Homo sapiens: one gene and its partner. Changing the gene in region 1 together with any one later gene gives a genetic interaction. Each region holds a gene or a part of one and is shown on either strand. Other genes may lie near its edges.

Region 1 (7,300 bases):
ATTCTTAATGATTTTCAAATCTTTTTGCAGCTATGTGGCTGAGCAAAGACACCCACAAAATTTCCTACAGAAGTATAACAAAAATAAAACAGATAAATCCCTAAAGATGCCCAAGTACACAATTCAGAATACCTTCCAATTTAATACACATCTTTAAGGAATGACTTTTAAGCTTTTAATTTTTCAAACAATCTATGCTCCCGACTCTATTCTCCACAGAGCATCAATGACATGAATTAGGACTAAATTGACAGATATAATCATCAGCATAAAAAACATTCTCTAATACAGTGATTAATGTAAATAAGATTTTTGGAATGTAATTTAAAAATTGTAAAATGAGTCTTCTGAAAGATACTTCAACTACCTGCTAGAGTTTGGTTTAACTCCTCCAAATCTCAGGTTGAAATCTGATCCCCAATGTTGGAGGCGGGATCTAACGGGAGGTGTTTGGGTCATGGGAGCAGATCCCTCATGAATGGTTTGGTGTCATCTTGGAGGGAATAAGTGAGTTCTCCTGCCATTAGGACCCAAGAGAACTGGCTTGTAAACAGCGCCTGGCACCTCCCCCTCTTTTTCCTTTGCTTTCTCTCACTATGGGATCTCCACACACTACTCCCCCACCATGAGTGGAAGCAGGCTGAGACTTTCACCAGATGCCCAGTCTTATAGTCAGCAGAATCCTGAGGTAAATAAACCTCTTTTTTCTTTGTAAATTACTCAGCCTCCCGTATTCCTGTATAGCAACACTATAAACACTATAAAGGAATGGACTAAGATACTACCTAAGATGATAAACATAAGGTTATATGGGTAATAGAAAAATTAAAACTATCTATTTATTTAGAATTGTTTCCAAAAGGATACTAATTCTCTGAATGAAGAAATCCCTAAGCATAAAAGCTCTCCACGAATCTGCGGTATAATTTTTTTTTCATTGTATAACACGACTTAAAATTATTTACTTCACCCAGACACGCATTTGTTTAAGCTGAAATTACCCATTTTTTGAAAGTGCGGTTCAGGTTTTCCTTAAGCCAAACACAACCTGGTTCAAAACGTAAAAATGTGAAAAAGCCTACCCCACCACTCTAAGAATCCCCATCATCCCAGAAAAAAGGAATACCCATCAAGCAGAATGACTTAAAGCTACATCTACAGATGGAATGGAACCACACACTTTCTTTCTTTCTTTTTTTTTGTTTTTTTTTTGAGACGGAGTCTCCGCCCAGGATGGAGTGCAGTGGCGCCATCGCGGCTCACTGCAACCTCTGCCTCCTGGGTTCAAGTGATTCTCCTCCGCCTCAGCCTCCCGAGTAGCTGGGATTACAGGCGCCCACCACCATGCCCGGCTAATTTTTTTGTATTTTTAGTAGAGACGGGGTTTCACCATGTTGGCCAGGCTGGTCTCGAACTCCTGACCTCGTGATCCTCCCGCCTCGGCCTCCCAAAGTGCTGGGATTACAGGAGTGAGCCACCGCGCCCGGCCATGGAACCACACATTTTCATCAGAGGCCTACTAAGGTTGAGCTAGTCTGTATCCCAAATTATCTTAGGTATTGTTCTTCCATCAAAGCAGGGCTGAAGATGCTCTTCAAATTACTGCTCCTACTGACAAGCATTCTGAGGTAGCAGTTATTTCCGACACAGTTAATAGCCTACATAAGTATTCCTGATTACAATAAGCAGTCAGGTCCTAAAATAATTGTAAACATAATCACACTGCTTAGCAAAAAGGAATGGATTTGTGATATGCTTCCACTTTCGAGACTTTTTTGCACAAGACGCTGCTGCTGTTTAATCATTCTGCCCCTCCGTATGTTTCATAGAAATCCTTGTTACTGGCATGATGAAACCTGACTTAAAATCTACGTAAGAGTGAACGCGGTCATTCAAATTAAAAGCAACATTCCAGAAGGCACTGGAATATGGGGAAAAGAGAAGCAAGTATGAGATAAATTTTTAATGAATGATTTCCAGAAGGCTCTCAAGGCTTTTAATTTTGTGCTAAAGCAACAGAAATTCTTATCTCTGTAGAACTATGTCACAGGGAACTTACGACTTTTTCCTTAGAGGGACCAGTAAGGCTGTGCTTCCACCCTGCAATAGTGATGATGATGTGTGTAACAGAAATAAATACTGCCCCAGAAAAGCTTAAGGTTTCTGAGCATCTCAAAATCAAATGAAAACTCCCTCTACTAAATCAAGCAATCCTGAATATAAGGGTGGCTTGGAAAGCTGCCTGTTGAAACTCCAGCGGTCAAAGTATGATTTGGGGGGGAAACGCGCACATGCAATCAACAAAGTAATCAATTGAACTTGCATCAAAGTTCACCAGGAAACAACAATCTGGAAAAAGAGAAAAAAAGTGATTTGATTTGAAGAGCACCGAACAAGTGCTGAAAAGTAGAGTTGGAAATTCACCCTAAGTAGGTTACATTTTGGCCACAGTTCTGTGGAAACCCTAAAAGAAAGTCAATCTGTATTAACAAAAATTCGGAAAACTTCATTCACACTACGGCCGTCCCACCGCGCTGTCGACATCCTCCCCGGGAATGCAGGGCCGCGGGCCGGCAGAGGTCGGTGCGAACGCAGCGCGGAACCGCGGGCGCCCGCCTGGACCGCGGCCGCCCCATCCAGTAGGGGAGGAGTAGCGGTGCGCGCGGCCTGTGCCGAGGCAACGCGGGCGCGTCCACCTGGCGACTGCGCGCCCCGGCTCCTCCAGTACCCGCGGCCCCCAGACCCCTCGCCGCGCGGCCCGTGCCAGCCGGGCCGCATCCCCGACGCGCAAAGCCCCGGCGGCCGTGGCGGCCCGGACCGCGGGCCCGGGGCGAAAAGAGGCTGTGTTGCCGCCTCGCCCTCCTTTCCCCAGCCCCAGCTACTCACGTGCCAAATGGCGAAGAAGATGAGCGCGGCAGTGAGCAGCAGCGCCAGCATGTAGCAGAAGGCCGCGAACGTGAACGCCATGGCTGGGGAGGAGGAGCGGGGAGCGGCGCCGTTGCCAGCGGAGAAAGGCGGCGCAGGGCCCTCTGGGTAAAACCATTCACTTCCCCCGGCCACAGCCGCGACCGCCACCGCTACCGCCGCGGCGCCAGCCCTCTCAGCGCGCCTGCGCACCAGCCCAGCCGCCCCGGCGCCCTCTGATGGCCGGAGTCTGCGTTGCACTGACATTGTCCGCACAGTTGTTGATTGATTTTTCCTTCCTTCTTGCGTTTATTCTTTCAACAAATATTTATTGAATGAATGCCTAGTTTGTTACAGGTACCGCGCTTCTCGCTTCAGATACAAAGATGAATAAGATAGTACCTGCACTGAAAGAACTTAGTATAGTGCCGGAAATGAACACCTAAATAAATAATTACGTTATTATAACCCCGTAAACGGATGTGTGTGGGATGCTCTGAAAGGTCAAAGAAGGACAGCCAGCCCGCCCTGGAGCATTTAGGCAGGATTCCTGCTGTAGGTGTTTCCTAAGTTGGCCTTAGATGATGATAAGTTCTCCAGGCAAAAAGAAGGTAGAACTGGCAGTCCAAGGAAACAGTTCAGAATGAGGAAACGCAACAGAGATGGAAAAAAGAAAAGAAAAATAAAGCTTCGTGTCTCAGGTGAAACCAGCAGCAATTCTGTATTAATGGAACCTAAGTGCAAGACAGTGGTGAGACTTAGAAATGAATTAGCAAGGGATCAGATCATAGAGGGCCTTATAATGCTTCATTACGGAGCTCAGACTTCTTATCCCATAAGCCCAAATTTTTTGCTCACCACACACAACTAGAAAGATTTTTTTCATTGCAACCCAGTGGAATATCATACAGACATCAAGTTATGAAGAGGTGGAAATCTAGTTATAGAGGCAAAGAAATATAGATATGACCAAAACAAAAATTTCACAAAACTGTACTAATGATCCATAAGTACTTTCCCTTCTCTCTTTTGCTACTTGTTTTTAATGCTGGTCTTAACACACAAAATTGATTCAAAATTGATTTAACTTTCCATTACAACCATTTTTAAAAGAAAAAAACTCTATTAACTGATTGCTGCTGATGGAAGAGAAAATCATTGAAGGCTTTTGAGCAAAAGAAGACCATGTTTAGATTTGCATTAAAGATCGTTCACCTAGCAAATTGCGTAGAATAGTTTAGAAGCAGGGTCTGTCCAGTGCTGTGCAATAGAACCTTCTGTGATGGTGAAAATTTTCGATACCTAAACATTGCCCAATACAGTAGCCACTAGCCACATGTGGCCATTGGGCACTTGTAAATTGTCTAGCATGACTGAGGAACTGAACTTTAAATTTCACATCACTTTAAGTAAAATGTGGCTAGTGTATTGGACAGTACAACCTGTACCACCAGGATTATGTGGCACCTGTGTGCAAATTATCAAGTTACTTTTGGCCAGGCACAGCAGCTCATGCCTGTAATCCTAACACTTTGGGAGGCCAAGACAGGAGGATCACTTGAGCTCAGGAATTCAAGACCAGCCTGGACAAGGTAATGAGATCTTGAGAGGTGACAGCGTGCTGGCAGTCCTCACAGCCCTCCCTCACTCTCGGCGCCTCCTCTGCCTGGGCTGCCACTTTGGCGGCACTTGAGGAGCCCTTCAGCCCACCGCTGCACTATGGGAGCCCCTTTCTGGGCTGGCCAAGGCCAGAGCCAGCTCCCTCAGCTTGCAGGGAGGTGTAGAGGAAGAGGCGCGAGGGGTAACCGGGACTGCGCAGGGTGCTTGCGGGCCAGCTGGAGTTCCGGGTTGGCGTGGGATTGGCGGGACCCTCACTCGGAGCAGCCGGCCGCCCCTGCCGGCCCCGGGTGATGAGGGGCTTAGCACCCGGGCCAGTGGCTGCAGAGGGTGTACTGGGTCCCCCAGCAGTGCCAGCCCACCGGCGCTGCACTCGATTTCTCACCGGGCCTTAGCTGCCTTCCCGCGGGGCAGGGCTCGGGACCTGCAGCCCGCCATGCCTGAGCCTCCCACCCCCTCCATGGGCTCCTGTGCAGCCCAAGCCTCCCCAGCGAGCGCCACCCCCTGCTCCATGGCGCCCAGTCCCATCGACCACCCAAGGGCTGAGGAGTGCGGGTGCACGGCGCGGGACTGGCAGGCAGCTCCACCTGCAGCCCCGGTGTGGGATATGCTGGGTGAAGCCAGCTGGGCTCCTGAGTCTCGGGGGGAAGTGGAGAACCTTTATGCCTAGCTCAGGGATTGTAAATATACCAATCAGCACTCTGTATCTAGCTCAAGGTTTGTAAACACACCAATCAGCACCCTGTGTCTAGCTCAGGGTTTGGGAATGCACCAATGTGCACTCTGTATCTAGCTTCTCTGGTGAGGCCTTGGAGAACCTTTATGTCTAGCTCGGGGATTGTAAATACACCAATCAGCACTCTGTATCTAGCTCAAGGTTTGTAAACACACCAATCAGCACCCTGTATCTAGCTCAGGGTTTGTGAGTGCACCAATGGACACTCTGTATCTAGCTACTCTGGTGGGGCCTTAGAGAACCTTTGTGTGGATGCTCTGTATCTAAGTAATCTGGTGGGGACATGGAAAACCTTTGTGTCTAGCTCAGGGATTGTAAACGCACCAATCAGCGCCCTGTCAAAACAGACCACTCGGCTCTACCAATCAGCAGGACATGGGTGGGGCCAGATAAGAGAATAAAAGCAGGCTGCCGGAGCCAGCGGGGACAACCCGCTGAAGTCCAGTTCCATGGTGTGGGAGATTTGTTTTTTCGCTCCTTGCAATAAATCTTGCTACTGCTCTCTCTTTGGTTCCACACTGATTTTATGAGCTGTCACACTCACCACAAAGGTCTGCAGCTTCATTCCTGAACCCAGCAAGACCACGAGCCCACAGGGAGAAACGAACAATTCCAGACGCACCGCCTTAACAGCTGTAACGCTGCGAAGGTCTGTAGCTTCACTTCTGAGCCAGCGAGACCACGAACCACCAGGAGGGAAAAAACTCCGAACGCTTCCGAACATCAGAAGGAACAAACGCCAGACGCGCCATCTTAAGAGCTGTAACACTCACCACGAGGGTCCGTGGCTTCATTCTTGAAGTCAGACCAAGAACCCACCAATTCCAGGCACAATCTCATCTCTATTTCTTTTTTAAAATAATAAAATCCAATAACATTTTTTGTAAAGTTACTTTCTGCAGATGGACAGAGGCCCACCCCAGAGTGTAGGAACACAAGCTATACTTCAGCCCCACCAACCCTGGTCGTGCACCTATGTGCAGTGCACAAACTGCCCAACTGTGCACAATGACCCTGATTAGAGGAGTGTTAGATTGGAAATCGGGTCCCACGGCAATGGTCCAAGCAAAAGTTGCTATGGATCTGAACTAGAGCAGTGGAAGGTGGGAAGGAAAGGGGTAAACATGCTTGATAGTAGTTGGGAGACAAGCTCAGCTGAACTTGATTAACTGGATGCCCTGGTGAAAGCGAAGAAGGAGGCAAATGATATTTAATTCAGTACTTAAGGCCACGGGCACGGCAGAACGCAGCATCAGGCAATATTTATGCAAGAGAACTCACAATCTAATGAAAGGCAGATGCAGCTTTCTGGGCTCGGGAGAGAGAGTTTGCAGGGAACTACTCAAGCCAAACCATGAAATCGAACCCCCTTTTTCCAGATGAATCCCATCTACAACTTGGGAAATGATGTTTCATCACCAGATACCAAGAAATCCTACCTTTTGGCAACAAGTTTTTCTCCGGCTTCACTTGAAATGTGTGTTTTCCTTCTCTGCTGACTAGGCTAGCACCTTATCTCATAGAATGAAACTGTCTCCCAGGCACCCACCCTTAATTAGAAGGGGCTACCCCTATTTCACCTGAGGAGAAAGGAAATTTGTAAGAGAAATTTTGCCTGCCTCAACCCCTACAGCGGTTACATAAAACCCAGGTTCCCCACCAACTTTCTTCAAGGGTAGCATTTTAGGTATTTCAACAAAGGTTTGTTGAGCACCTGTTCTATGCCAGGTGGAGTGCTGACTGATTCACACAGTTATATAAGCTGCAGTAGGATGAAGCCCCCTTCACATATTACCAGAGCACACAGGTAAACTTTAGGCTTGTGCTGTCTAATACAGGAGCCACTAATCATGTGACTATTTAAATTTAAATTAAGCTGGGCAAGGTAGAACACACCTGCAATTCCAACACTTCAGGAAGCTGAGGCACAAGGATTGCTTGAGGCCATGGGGTTGGAGGCTGCAGTGAGCCATGGTTGCGCCACTGCACCCCAGCCTGGGTGACAGAATGAAACCTTGTCTCCAAAAAAAATTTTTAATTAAA
Region 2 (7,029 bases), on another chromosome or scaffold:
CTTGAAAACATGAAATAAGTGTCTTGGTTTTAAGAGAAAAAGAATGTTCTCTACTAATGAAGGTGCCAAAGAGGGGAGATAATCTTTTATGTTCTGAATATATTTAGTAAGGAAAAGCAGCTGACCAGGTCTCCTCAAATAACCTGCAAGACAGACTAGACTGGAGAAAGAAAGAAAATCTCAATAACTTTAGAAATAGGCAATTTTAAACAATGCCTACCTCCTTCCTGCCTAGCACAGGCAAGTCTTTCATTTACAAATACAATGCTATGGCCTAAAGTAGAATCTGTATTTATGAAGATGAAGATGCCTCCAAATAAAGGAAGATCCAAAAGAAATGAAGCTGGGAAGGGGTCACATATGTGACTTCAGTCCAACATACTGTCAAATGTACTCACAACTGAAGTTGATAGGTTGCTAACCCTTTTTCACTCTTTGCTACCAGACTTTCCCCTCTCTCAAAGAGAAATTCTCTTACACTTTAAACAAAAAGTGTCAAGAGATTATACTTCAGGTAAGTTAATTTGCAGACCATCAGGGTTGGAAAAATGATAAAGCATACCTTATTCTTGGGGTCTAATCAAATCTCAATCCTGACTGTGCATCAATGTGTTGAGCTTTTTCTAGGGGGGAAAAAAAAAAAAGGGCCAGGCATGGTGGCTCACACCTGTAATCCCAGCACTTTGGGAGGCCAAGGCAGGCAGATCACCTGAGGTCAGGAGTTCGAGACCAGCCTGGCCAACATGGTGAAATTCCGTCTCTACTAAAAACACAAAAATTAGCCCGGTGTGGTGGTGGGTGCCTATAATCCCACCTACTTGGAAGGCTGAGGCAGGAGAATTGCTTGAACCTTGGAGGCCGAGATTGCAGTGAGCCGAGATCGCGCTATTGCACTCCAGCCTGGGCAAGAAGAGCAAAACTCTATCTCAAAAAAAAAAAAAAAAAAAGAGAGATGGCAGCAATCCATCCTAGATATGCTAAATATTAGTATCTCCAAGGAAGGAGTCAAAAAAACTTCTGATTCTGTTTTATTTTGGAACTAACACAGGTTATTCTGTTGCACAGTCAAGGTTGAATATCACCATCCTAAGCTGCAGGCAGAGATCTACATGAGGAATCTCTTATTAATGATGATGATGATGATGATGACGATGATATGGTAACACAAAACCTCTTGTATTCACTCAGGCAAAGCTCCACAATCAGATGACCATGTTTACCCAAGCAGGCAGGAATCAGGTGTAACTAACACTTTCTGCAGCTCTCATGAAGACATGCAGTTTTGTGTAGGAAATAGATTTTCCCTTTTCTTACCTATGACACCAAAGGGTTTCATGTCCTGGGTAGGAATCAATAAGATCAGTGCTGAATTCAACTTCTTCTTCTAGAAGATGGGGAAGATTAATCCTTGGTTCTTCTGTTGAAACTGCTGCTTCTTCATCTTTTGGAGGAACTAGGGCTGGCTCACTTCTCAAAGGATTTTGCTCCATCACAGAACTGTCTATCACAGTTTGGCTAATCAAAGACTTAAGCAAAAACTGGCGGTAGTGAAATCCACTGTGGTCTGAAACGTGCATAGATGCCCAATGTTTAGTAGAAGATAGTTCATCAAGAAGAATCTTTTAAGAAGAAAAAAGGGAAGTAAGAAGAAGAGTTCCCAAAGGTTCTTCTTTCTCCATTATTGCCTCTGATTTCTCTTTGATTTGTTCCTTTTTTGACAAGACCATTCTTACCAATATTTTGTACACAATGTCTAGCACAGTGCTCTCACTTAGTGGAAGCTTAATACATGCGAATTTTCTCTTTCCCATATAAAAGTGATAGATTTTTTTTTAAGACTAAAGAATTTAAGGACTCATTTGTCATCCTTTCCCTAGACCTTGACTACTCACATTCTGATTGGTACACACAGAGAAGGAAAATAAAATTCTAAAATAATGATGAGCATTAGGGTATTCATTTACAAGTAATGCTGACGTAAAAGCAAAAATATAAACTCAGATTACTTTGATATAAACTTTATTTTACATTTAATAAATGTGTATAATATGTAACTTATTATCTCTACAATAGGCTCAGTGAAATTATTTGTTCTTCAATATAAATGTCATGAGGGCAGAGACCGTGTCTGTCTTGCTCACTACTTAATTATAAGGGATTAGTAGAAAAACATGATGCACTAATAATAAGATTTTTTCAAGAGCTCGTGACTTTAACTGTCTCAAACTTACTTAACAGTAATAATAAATGGGTTTTAAAATAACTGAAAATTCAGCAGCAAATTGTTTAAATCTTTGTGATACCAATATCTTGCAAACTAAAGAATTTCAAATGAAATGATTTTTTAAAAAGCAGCACCTATGCAAAAATAATTTATTTGAGAGTGTCTTGGACAGGTCGCAAACATAAATCAGTGAAAGGTATATCAAGTGCCTACCACGTTCCGTCAGAGGATTTTCAGACCAGCTAAGGAAAAAAGACATACATTTGTGAACAGTTAACAATACAGACAGCATAATGCTGAATGACACCTTTACCTGTTTGTCAAAGGTCCCAGGCAAATGCCTTCTCCTGTACCATGATCTTTTTTCCATTTCTTACACCATTTTTCTTCCGCGGGAATCTTTCCTTTTGCTGAACCCCCATAGTACTTATGTATTCCATCACATTTATTAAAGAATTTCAGTGCATCTCTTCATTCTCATTAAACTCAGTGAGTGAGGGCTTTAAGATATTTATTCATTCCTATCTGATACTTCAATCCCCCTATACCTACTGACATCAAAGTGGATACATAAATATTTTATGAAATGAATGAACAATTTAATAAATAAGGCAAATAGTAAGATTACTTCCAGCCAAGATAGTCAAGTTGTATCAGTGATATGTTTTAAACATCTCCTTTAAGTTCCAATGAGTTTATTCATAGCCACCTAAATTTATTCCAGAGGCTATAGCTGGCAAGTATCTGAGAAATGGAAAACAGTATCTTTATTTGATTTTAAAAGGTGAAGAAAAATAGCACCAGATAAACTCCTACCTGAAATAAAAATCAATCTTACATTTATTACATTTTTGAAAAATAAACCTGTAGAACATTCTGGCTATAATACAGCAGCTTTTTTATTTTGGCATGGCTTCTTAACATGGATTGAAAAGAGTACTCCACTTATTTAAAATGAACTTATATAATATGAAAACATTTAGATTATTTCTAACTGGATATTTCTATGTATAAAATTGCAGTTTATTATTTAATTTTGAGGCAAAAATAGCACACATATAAAAGATGTTCTGGCTGTGCGTGGTGGCTCATACCTGTAATCCCAGCACTTTGGGAGGCTGGGGCGGACGGATCACCTGAGGTCAGGAGTTGGAGACCAGCCTGGCCAAAATGGTGAGACCCTGTCTCTACTAAAAATACAAAAATTTGCAGGGCGTGGTGGTGCATGCCTGTAGTCCCAGCTACTTGGGAGGCTGAGGCAGGAGAATAACTCGAACCTGGGAGGTATAGGTTGCAGTGAGCCGAGATTGCTCCACTATACTCCAGCCTGGGCGACAAAACAAGACTCCATCTCAAAAAAGAAAAAAAATATATATATATATTTTCAACAAAATCAATTTCTTAAAAAAATTCTTAGGCTTTTAAAGAGAAAATCCACTATATTCTTTTCCCTAAGATATAAAGATGCATATTAGAAACTTTAACTGGAATTTCAGGGTATTCTCTTGTTAGAATAAAAAGATATAAAGATAGAGGCAATGATTTTTTTAAAAAAGACAGCAATTACTTTTAAGTGATCCAGTTAACTTTTAAGTGATCTAAAGATACTATATGAAGATATGGCTTTAATGTACAGTACTGATGGGATAAATGACCTTCGTATGATATACGTTAAATATCTTTCTTTTCCTACTTCCATATGAAAACATGAATAAGTGAATAAATAAACTACAAGAAAACTGCAAATGCAGGGCTATGAAAAAGAGGGATAACGTGCTAAAAATGAAAGACTACTAAAAATACATATGCCATAGGTCCTTTAAACTTTTAAAAATAGTATTTGGGTTTTCTTCTGATTATAAAAGTGATACAAAATGATCAATATAGAAAATTCCAATAATATGGGAAAATATAAAAAAGCAAACAAAAATCATCCATTATTTTGTTGGCCAGAGATCACTACTTGTAACATTCTGGCAGAAAACAAATCTTTCAGGTTTTTTTCTATGTATGCACATGCACAGAGTTTATTTTTAAGAAAAATCTGGGATATTCTTTTGTACCAATTTTATTCTACTTCAATTATAAATACATTCCTATGGCATTAAATATTATTCTATAATTTTTAACTCGTAAAATATTTCACCCTCAAGATTAACAGAATTTAACCATTCCTGTGTTTGTTTCTACTCTTGTATAAGTAACACTCATAAATAAATCTATGTACATATCTAATTATTTAGGAGAAATTTGTAGAAATATACTTGCTGGAACAAAGAAAAAAACTTTATAAAGTTCTTGATATATAAAGTGTCCTGCAGAAAGACTGTATAATTTATACTCCTATTGGAAGTACATGTTAATGCTTATTTCCTAAATTCATCATCAATACTTTAATCTTCACTAATAAGAATCACATTTCATTTTAATTTACATTTCCTTAATTATCATTAAGCCTAAATATCTTTTCTTGTGTGATTACTTTTCCTTTGCTTCTTCATTTATGAACTGCCTATTTTGCCTAATTCTCTACTTTTATGAATTATCTAATTTACTATTTGTGATAGTCATTATTTTTCTTACGAGTTTGTAAGAGGTCTTTACATATTAAAGATATTAAGTCTCTATTTGTCATATGTGTTATAAATATTATTTTCGATATATTACTGCAACTGATTTTTTAAATTCTTTTTTTTTTTTTAAAGATTGGGAGTCAAGTAAAATTCTTTTTTTTCTTTTCTCCCTCAGGTCTATTGAAGAAGTATAAATGACAAATTAAAATTGTGTATATACACACACACACACACACACACACACGTATACACACACATATATATATACGATGTACGACATATTGTTTTTATGTATACACTGTGAAATGATTACCACCATCAAGTGAATTAACTTATCTATCACCTCACATAAGTATTTTATTTTTTGTGGTAAGAACATTTAAGATAACGCTCTTAGAAATCTTTGGGTATACATTATTAACAGTAATTACCATGTTCTACCATTAGACCTCCAGAACTTACTCATCCTAACGGAAACTTTGTACCCTTTAACCAGCAACTCCCTGTTCCCCACCACAACCCCTACTCCTGCAATCACCATTCTACTATTTCCATGAGTTCAACTTGTTTAGAGTCCACCTACAAGTGACACCATGCAATATTTATCCTTCTGCGCTTGGCTTATTTCACTTAGCATAATGTGAGTCTCTTTTCTTCATATAGGTTTTTATTCCATTTAAAGTTCAATTTGGTATTTAAGATTAAAAAAAAAAAACCACCTAACTTTCTATTTTCTAAAAAGTCAATAAATTTTACCAGCATCACAAATTGAACAGGGAATCCTTTCTCTAATTATGTGAAATGCCATATTCATCATTAATGAAATATGTACATATTATGTATTGGAATTTGTTTCTGGACTTTATATTCTGTTCCATTACTGAGTCTATTTTTGAAATAGCATCACAATTTTAATTACTCTGTCTTATTAATAAACATGTAAGTATCTAATGGTAGAGTGTTCTTTATTGTTTTTCCCAACAATTCCTCAGCTATTCTTTAAGCTTTATTCTCTCTAATGTACTTTAGAATCATTTTTGAAGTGAAAAAATAAATCAGTGGTTTTTAATATATTCACAGAATTGTGCAACCATTGCTCTTATCTAATTTCTAATGTTTTCACCACCCCCACAAAACCCCATTCCTATTAGAAGTTACATCCCATTCCCTCCTCCCCAGCCTCTGGCACCCACTAACCTGCTTTGCCTATTCTGAACATGTTATATAAATGAAATCATACAATATGTGGCCTTGAATCTGACTGCTTTCAATCAGCATGTTTTCAAGGTTCATCCACGTTATAGCATGTATCAGTATTTCCTTCCTTTTTTATGGCCAATGTTCTATTGCATGGATACGCCACATTTTGTTTTCCATTCCTCAGGTGAGGTATTATTTTTTGGCTATTATAAATAATATGGCTATTAATGTTCTCATACAAGATTTGGTATGGAATGTGTTTTCACTTCTCTTGGGTATATACCTAGGAGCAGAATTACAGGGTCATATATGGTAATGCATGTTTTTCTCCAAGAATATGATATATATTAACTATAGTTTTATTAATATATAGTGATTCTATGTTTAATTATTTGAGGAAATGCCAAACTGCTTTCCACAGTGGCTGTACCATTTTACATTCTTACCAGCCATAAATAAGAGTTTCAGTTTCTCCACATCCTAACCAACATTTGTTATTGTCCGTATTTTGGTGTGAAGTGGTATCTCACTCCCTGTGGTTTTGCTTTGCATTTCCCTAATAGTAAAGATGGTGAATATCTTTTCATGTCCTTATTGGTGGTGTGGGTAGGTTTTTTGGAGAAATGACTATATGTGCTTTTTTTATGTGAAACTTGTAATTTGCCAGTAGTAATAAACTGCCTGACTGTGAATCTTTCCTGCCACACTACCCTCAAATATAAAAATATTTTAAAATTTACTTAAATGTTTATTTAAGCATGCAGACATCAGAGAGAACATAAAATAGAAAATTAGTGTCATAATTCCACCCTATACTACTTTTAATCAATCTTTATTCTTTAACCTTTTTCTGACTAGAAAACAAATATATGCTTTTATAAAAAATACAAGAAAAAAATCTATAGCATTGTTGTGTGTATGTATTACTATCTGTTCAGCATTTACCATGTGCCAAGCACTGTTTCAAACACTTTAAAGTATTTGCTGTCTCATTCAATGCTAATAAATACATTAAAAATTATATTAGGCTGC

The links. Genes that interact genetically often act in the same process or in processes that back each other up.
Region 2: changes in CNIH1 (region 1) and PTAR1 are lethal when combined (synthetic lethality), as found in Homo sapiens cells (one study listed by BioGRID).

The regions. Positions count from the first base shown.
Region 1 is NC_000014.9:54,438,361-54,445,660, forward strand, and holds the start of CNIH1 (protein cornichon homolog 1), read right to left. Parts: upstream 3,015-7,300; 5' UTR 2,968-3,014; coding exon 2,887-2,967; intron 1-2,886. UniProt on the Homo sapiens protein: Involved in the selective transport and maturation of TGF-alpha family proteins.
Region 2 is NC_000009.12:69,722,012-69,729,040, forward strand, and holds part of PTAR1 (protein prenyltransferase alpha subunit repeat-containing protein 1), read right to left. Parts: intron 1,620-7,029; coding exon 1,315-1,619; intron 1-1,314.